Homo sapiens: one gene and its partner. The protein of the gene in region 2 purifies or fractionates together with the protein of the main gene of each other region. This does not show direct contact. Each region holds a gene or a part of one and is shown on either strand. Other genes may lie near its edges. The genes, in order: LMBR1 and ABCC8.

Evidence for each region.
Region 1: the proteins of ABCC8 (region 2) and LMBR1 purify together in Homo sapiens (affinity purification with mass spectrometry; one large-scale study listed by BioGRID and IntAct). This does not show direct contact.

What each region holds. Positions count from the first base shown.
Region 1 is NC_000007.14:156,882,937-156,886,750, reverse strand, and holds part of LMBR1 (limb region 1 protein homolog), read left to right. Parts: intron 1-3,814. UniProt on the Homo sapiens protein: Putative membrane receptor.
Region 2 is NC_000011.10:17,403,532-17,407,345, reverse strand, and holds part of ABCC8 (ATP-binding cassette sub-family C member 8), read left to right. Parts: intron 1-136; exon of another isoform or gene 137-216; coding exon 217-458; intron 459-557; coding exon 558-724; intron 725-1,782; coding exon 1,783-1,852; intron 1,853-2,676; coding exon 2,677-2,834; intron 2,835-3,814. UniProt on the Homo sapiens protein: Regulator subunit of pancreatic ATP-sensitive potassium channel (KATP), playing a major role in the regulation of insulin release.

The DNA of each region.
Region 1 (3,814 bases), on a different chromosome or scaffold from region 2:
AAGAATAAACTGGTTCTAACTGCCTCAAGGTGTTTCTTTTTTTCTAGCGGCTAAACAAGCACTGGCCTCCAGATAAGCAATATTAAGATAACTGCAGCTCACTCACTGCCAGACCCTAAGTGATCCCCACTCTCCTGTTCCACAAGCCATAACTATAGCTTTGATTGGACAAGAGACTGATTTCAGTAACTTTCTCCTGATAAGAGCACTGAGCATGAACTGGTTCTGGCCAGTTTACAGAGGCTGTGCACTTCAGTGCCTTCATGTCCCTGCTTCGCCATCTGACTACAGGGCCTCATTGTAATCCTTTTAGATGTTAAGTCTCCACCCACAAGTGAATATGGATAAGTATGTAACATACATGTTTATTCAGCCTGCATGTGCATGACCTCCCCCACTTTGTGAATATTCATAGCTCCTCCTATAACCTGTTAAATATATAAACTTGGCCAACCCGTTCAGCATAAATCCCTGTTCTATCCTCCCTTGAAGGTCTGTTTCTGTGCTCTGCGGGAGGATGCTTCCCAGCTATCAGGATTGCCACCTTGTAGGCTGTGACTCTTTACAAAATTATTTTTGAGGCAGAGTGTGGTTCCGTCACTCAGGCTGGAATGCTGTGGCACAAACACGGCTTACTGTAGCCTCTATCTCCCAGGCTCAAGAGATCTTCCTACTTGAAGGAAGTCTTTTTTTTTTTTTTTTTCTTTTTTTGAGGCAGAGTCTCACTCTGTCACCCAGGCTGGAGTGCAGTGGCACTATCTCAGCTCACTGCAACCTCTACCTCCTGGGTTCAAGCAATTCTTGTGCCTCAGCCTCTTGAGTAGCTGGGATTACAGGTGCCACCACCATGCCTGGCTAATTTTATTTATTTATTTATGATATGGAGTCTCTGTCACCCAGCCTGGAGTGCAGTGGCACAATCTCGGCTCACGATAACCTCTGCTTCCCGGGTTCAAGTGATTCTCCTGCCTCAGCCTCCCAGTAGCTGGGATTATAGGTGCCTGCCACCATGCCCGGCTAATGTTTTTGAATTTTTAGTAGAGGCAGGGTTTTACCATGTTGGCCAGGCTAGTCTCAAACTCCTGACCTCAAGTGATCCTCCTGCCTTGGCCTCCCAAAGTGCTGGGATTACAGGTGTGAGTCAATGCGTCTGGCCATTTTTGTATGGACGGGTTATTTCCGTGTTACCCAGACTGGTCTTGAACTCTCCTGGCCTCAAGTAATCCTCCTGCCTCAGCTTCCCAAAGTGCTAGAATTAGAGGTGTGAGCCACCATGCCTGGCCTGGCTGCGCAATCTAAATTCTTCCTTATCCTGGGTATGGCTTAAGCTCCCCTCTTGGCTAGAATATTTTTGGAACCAAGTCTGGGGTTGACTGGGACTTTTTTTTTTTTTTCTTTTACACGGAGTCTCGCTCTGTCACCGAGGCTGGAATGCAGTGGAGCGATCCTGGCTCACTGCAACCTCCGCCTTCCAGATTCCAGTGATTATCCTGCCTCAGCCTCCCAAGTAGCTGGGATTACAGGCGCCTGCCACCATGCCTGGCTAATTTTTGTATTTTTAGTAGAGATGGGGTTTTGCCATGTTGGCCAAGCTGGTCTTGAACTCCTGACCTCAGGTGATCCGCCCCTGCCTCGGCCTCGCAAAGTGCTGGGATTACAGGCATGAGCCACCGTGCCCAGCCAGACTGGGACTTACACAACAGAGATTTTAGAACCTTCCCATTTAGTTGGCTCCTTTTAGGCCAAATGGGAGGTGGGGAGATAATGGGGATAGAAGTATCCTTCATCTACTGCCTCTCTAGATGAGTTTACCTGCTGTTTTCTACTGGTGTCTTGCCCTCAACTCTATGGCTTACCCTTTATGCAGGAGATAAAAAACTTTAGTCCTTCCCACTTGGGAATAGTGGTTGGGCAGAAGGTGGGAACCAATCACCAATCTTGTATGTAAGTTCAGAATGCAGTTATCTTGGAGTCTGTAGTCTTCTGACCTTTGTCATTGCCCTCCAGTGAAAGACCTCCAAGAGCACACCTGTAGTTGGACAAATTGGGCTTATTGCATATTTCAGTGAGTTCCATGGGGAACTGTGGGGTGTTTCAGTAACTTTTCAAATGGGATTTGGGCTTCTACTAGGTAGTTTGGGAAGGGTTTAAGGAAGTGAGGCTTTGATCTGTATGGGGTGCTGTTAGGAAGCTGGAAAAATTCTGTAACTGGATAGCTTAAGAAATCTTTTCTAGAAGGAAAGAAGACTGGAATAAAGCTAAAGCTGTAACTGGTAAAGAAGCAACAGTCATTCCTGTTAGCCAGGATAGAGAGTTGGTCATTTCTGTGATTTGGACAATGTTCATGTTTTTTTTTTTGCTTGTGTTCAGGAGTGATTACAGAGTGGTCTTGTTTAGTCTTTATCCATCATGGTCTTGTCTGATATTGATGTTCTCTGAAATTGTTGATGTTCAGCAGAAGAGTCAGTCATCAAGGCCTAGGTGTGTGCCTTGCTCTGAGTTGTTAGCCAGTTTACAGCAACACCAAGGCCCAGCTGTGATATTACCAGGCCAGCTCCCAGATGTCAGGGGCTGCATTTCTTTTTCTCACGTGGTTGTAAAGTCTTCTAGTGGAATGATGTATTAGAAACAAATCCAATAGCCAACATAAGTTGAAGTGATTTTCTAACATAGAAGAGCAAAAAGGAATGGGATAGAGGTATAGAGGTTTCATTTGTATTTGACTTTTCTAAACTGGGTTAAATCAGCTTCCCCTCTGCGGTAGGCAGCATAATGGCCCCTGAAGTTGGTAATCCATGTGGTAATCCCTGGAGCCTGTGGTGTGTTACTTTACATGGGTAAAGGGATTTTGCAGATGTGAGTATGTTAAAGGAGAATTACCCTGAATTATCCAGGTGGGCTCTATGTGGTCACAGGGTCCTTATAGGAGAGGCAGGAGGGTCAGAGTCAGAGGAGATGTGATGACAGAGGCAGAGTTGGAGTGATGCCCTTTGAGGAAGGAGGAGGGACCATGAGCCAAGGAGTGTGGGCGGCCTCCAGAAGCTAGAAACGTCAAGGAAATGAATTCTTTCCTAGAGTCTCCAGAAGGAAGCAACCTTGCTCACGCCTTGATTTTAGCCCAGTGAAACTCAATAAATTTGTGTTGTTTTAAGTCACAAAGTTTGTGTAATTTGGTTACAGCAGCCATAGGAGATTCCTACTCCTTCATCAGGAGGCTTTGACTTTCACTGCTGTCCCTGTATATCTTACCACTCCATAGTTGTGTACTTGAGGTTAAAGGAAACTGGGACATTCTAATTACATTTGAGATAATTTTTCATGTCTTCCTATTCTGTCCTCCTTTTTTTTTTCTGAGATGGAGTCTTGCTCTGTTGCCCAGGCTGGAGTGCAGTGACATGATCTTGGCTCACTGCAGCCTCCGCCTCCCGAGTTCAAGCAATTCTCCTGCCTCAGCCTCCCAAGTAGCTGGGATTACAGGTGTGCACCACCACACCTGGCTAATTTTTGTATTTTCAGTAGAGACAGGTTTCACCTGTTGGCCAGGGTGGTCTTGAACTCCAGACCTCAGGTGATCTGCCTGCCTTGGCTTCCCAAAGTGCTGGGATTACAGGTGTGAGCCACCATGCATGGCCCTGTCCTTCTTTTTTAAACTTGATTGTATTGCAGTAAGAATACCTAATGTGAGATCTACCCTCTTAACAAAAAATTTTTTTTTTCAGTCAGAGTCTCGTACTGTCTGTTGCCCAGGCTAGAGTGCAATAGCGTGATCTCGGCTCACTGCAACCTCCACCTCCCGGGTTCAAGTGATTCTCCT
Region 2 (3,814 bases):
AATGGGACTGGGAGTGAAATTATGGCCTGAGGTCTGATCAGCCACAGAGAGGCTAAGGTTTGGGGTTCTGGGTGTGGTGCAGTAGTGTGCCTTTGATTAAATGGCTTCCCTCTGTGTGCCCCCGTTGTCCCCTCAGTAAGTGGGGATAAAATGCCCTGATTCACCCTCAGAGGGATGGAAATGTGTAGCCACAGAGTGGGTTCTTGCGGCCTGCAGAGGAGGCAGCTGAGAGCGAGGAGGATGACAACCTGTCGTCCATGCTGCACCAGCGTGCTGAGATCCCATGGCGAGCCTGCGCCAAGTACCTGTCCTCCGCCGGCATCCTGCTCCTGTCGTTGCTGGTCTTCTCACAGCTGCTCAAGCACATGGTCCTGGTGGCCATCGACTACTGGCTGGCCAAGTGGACCGACAGCGCCCTGACCCTGACCCCTGCAGCCAGGAACTGCTCCCTCAGCCAGGTGTGACTGGCGGCCCATGGCAGAGGTTGGGAGTGGGGATGGGGGAAGGGCTGAGCCCATGGGCACCCTGGAACTCCAAATCACTCTCTGCCTGTGAAGGAGTGCACCCTCGACCAGACTGTCTATGCCATGGTGTTCACGGTGCTCTGCAGCCTGGGCATTGTGCTGTGCCTCGTCACGTCTGTCACTGTGGAGTGGACAGGGCTGAAGGTGGCCAAGAGACTGCACCGCAGCCTGCTAAACCGGATCATCCTAGCCCCCATGAGGTACCCGTCTCCCCTGGCCAGGCTGGGACTGTGAGCAAGTCACTGTTCTCTGAGCCTTAGTCTTCCCATCTATAAAATGGGGATATACAACCTGTCACAAGCTTGTGGGGGTGACTCAAGGAGACAGTGTGTGTAAAAGTGCCCTCCTTGTGCAAGAAGCAGGGAGAAACTGGCATTTACTCAGCCAGATACTGTGATAGGCATTGTGTGTGGTTAGCTCATTTAATTGTTACCATGGCCCTTTAAAGTGAGCGTCTGCACATCCAAGTAAAGATTGTTTTCTCCTCCCTAAGTGGGTGTAATTTGCCCATCCCCACCCATGAGTTCAGCTCCCTGCCCTCCCCTCACTCTCTCTCCCTCAGCCAGCCTCAGGTTTTGACACTGGGGGAACAGGTAGCTGTTCTATTAATAATTTCCTGTAATGGGATGGATAAAAATCTCAAAGGCCACTTGATGTCAAAGAGGTTTAAAGTTGTCCCTGCCCAATTGGTTGGCCAACTTGGCTTAAAAACACAACAGGCAAACAGATTTTCTGGCCCCTTGTCGAGGCTAGACCTCACAATCTAACTGCACTTTTTACTTTCCAGCCTCATGAGTTTTCTGTGGCCCACAGATATGGCCTCCAAGTTTATTTACTTTTACTCTCTATTTGCCCCAGCTCTGTAGTTCTGAAACTCCCTGGTTGGGGTTGGGCTGACTCTGGGTCAGCCAGCCGGCAGGCTGTCCCCAGGGCCCTGTTCCTCTTGGCAGGTTGTCCCTCTGGAGAGGACTCTGTGTCCCAGGAGGACAGCTGCTGAGTCAGGCCGAGCCGGCAGCTGAGAAAGGCGGCAGTCGTCAGATGGGCTTGAGAAACTGAAAGGCTAACGAAAGGCCAGCGCCCCTTTGGGCAGCTGCAGGAATTCACGGGGATACAGGCCAGATGTCTACAAATTGGCAGAGGATGCCAGACCCATGAATGACTCCAGAGACACTTACATGAAATAATTAACTATCTCATTCAGTAAACAGGAAGTAAATCAATGGACAAATGAGTAACTCTTCCTCTGGCTGCCTCTTAGGTTTTTTGAGACCACGCCCCTTGGGAGCATCCTGAACAGATTTTCATCTGACTGTAACACCATCGACCAGGTACAGAGGACCGTGCCACACTATCCCCCCTTCCAGAGACACCTCGGACCCCTGGGGGCTTCTCCTGTCTGAGGCTGGGTTCCCCAGATCAGGTGATCACAGCCCTCTGGGAAGAAGCCAGTGTCCCCGATCCGATTATAATGCTGCTTCAGGGCTGGGGCCTCCCTCGTGGGAGCCTCACAGTAAGGCTGAGGGAAACCAGATCCCTTTAGCTTCCACCTGAGATCCCACTGGCTTTCTCTAGTAAAGTTCCAGCATATTCTGAACCAAGGTGGCTGATTGTATGGAGAATATTCATTTTGATTCAGCCTGTGTTCTTTATTTACCATTGTACCAGATGGTGTGAAAACAAAATCTTGATTCCTACCTCAGGGAGTTTACCTTGTAGCTGGAGAGATGAGATACGTGCCTATAATAAAGGGAGAGCAAGGCCGGGCTCAGTGGCTCACTCCTGTAACCCCAGCACTTTGGGAGGCGGAGGCAGGCGGATCACTTGAGGCCAGGTGTTCAAGACCAGCCTGATGGCCAACATGATGAAACCCCTTCTCTATTAAAAATACAAAAATTAGCCAGGTGTGGTGGCAGGTGCCTGTAATCCCAACTACTTGGGAAGCTGAGGCAGGAGAATCATTTGAACCCAAGGGGCAGAGGCTGCCGTGAACCGAGATTACGCTGCTGCACTCAAGTCTGGGCAACAGTGAGACTCAGTCTCAAAAAAATAAAGGATCAAAAAATAAAGTGAGAGCAAAACATGGCGGCCAGTAGCACTCTAAACACAGTCAATACCAAAATTCACCTCACTCTCTCCCCCTCGTCTCCCTCAGCACATCCCATCCACGCTGGAGTGCCTGAGCCGCTCCACCCTGCTCTGTGTCTCAGCCCTGGCCGTCATCTCCTATGTCACACCTGTGTTCCTCGTGGCCCTCTTGCCCCTGGCCATCGTGTGCTACTTCATCCAGAAGTACTTCCGGGTGGCGTCCAGGTGATGGCCTCAGGGGTGAGGGGTGGGAGGTGCTTTGCAATGTGCAGTTTGGTGTACTTGCTAGACTCATCGTTATGAGAGTAATAGGGTCGTGTTCCCTCCAAAAAATAAAAACAAAAAACAGAAATGAAGGAAATAGAAATATCCACATCTTATTCCACCGCCCTAATATAATAGTCTGCCAACACACGCACACACTGAGGTTGACATCTGAATTATTTCCTTGGGCGATATGGTCAGGACTGGAATTGCTAGGTCATGATAAATGCACATTTTATGCCCTTCATTCATTTTGCCAACATGCTTCCCAGGAGGGTTGCATCATTCTAGTGGTCAGGCTGATTGCTGATGCATGAAATCGGCGGGCACCTGATTCAAGCAGTGTTATGATAACACCTCCCAGCCCACGTGAGTCCAGAGTGTAGCTGTAAGCCTTGACTTGAGGGAGCCTCTCACAGCCATTCTCATGGATCACATTTGCCCTCATGAGCTTTGGATCCATGCACGCCTCTTTCCTCCTCAAAATTTTCTAAGAATGTTCTCTAGGGAGTTCTTTCTGGGAGTGATTCTCCCAGATTCATAGAAACTCATAGATTCAAAAAATTGTAGGAAAAAATTTAAAGAACGTCTAGGCCAGTGTTTCTCAAACTGCCAATTACAGCCCATCAGTGGGTCATGAAATCAATATCATGGATCACAACCAGCATTTTTTTAAAAATGAAAAAAACATCAGACTGTATTCATAGAGTAAAGCAAGCTTTGCTTCATGAAACCTTTGTGTTGGTCATGGAGGTGTGTGAGTACTGATTTGTGAGATAAAATATATTTCTGACTGCAGGTTGTGGTCAGAAAGGTTAAGTACCTTTCCCAAGTGCACATAGTTGGCTAGAAACTAGAGTTGAGATACTTATTAGCAATAATAAAATTTAGATGCATTTTGGACACAATTACCTGCCCCAAAGGATCAACATTTGTATAAA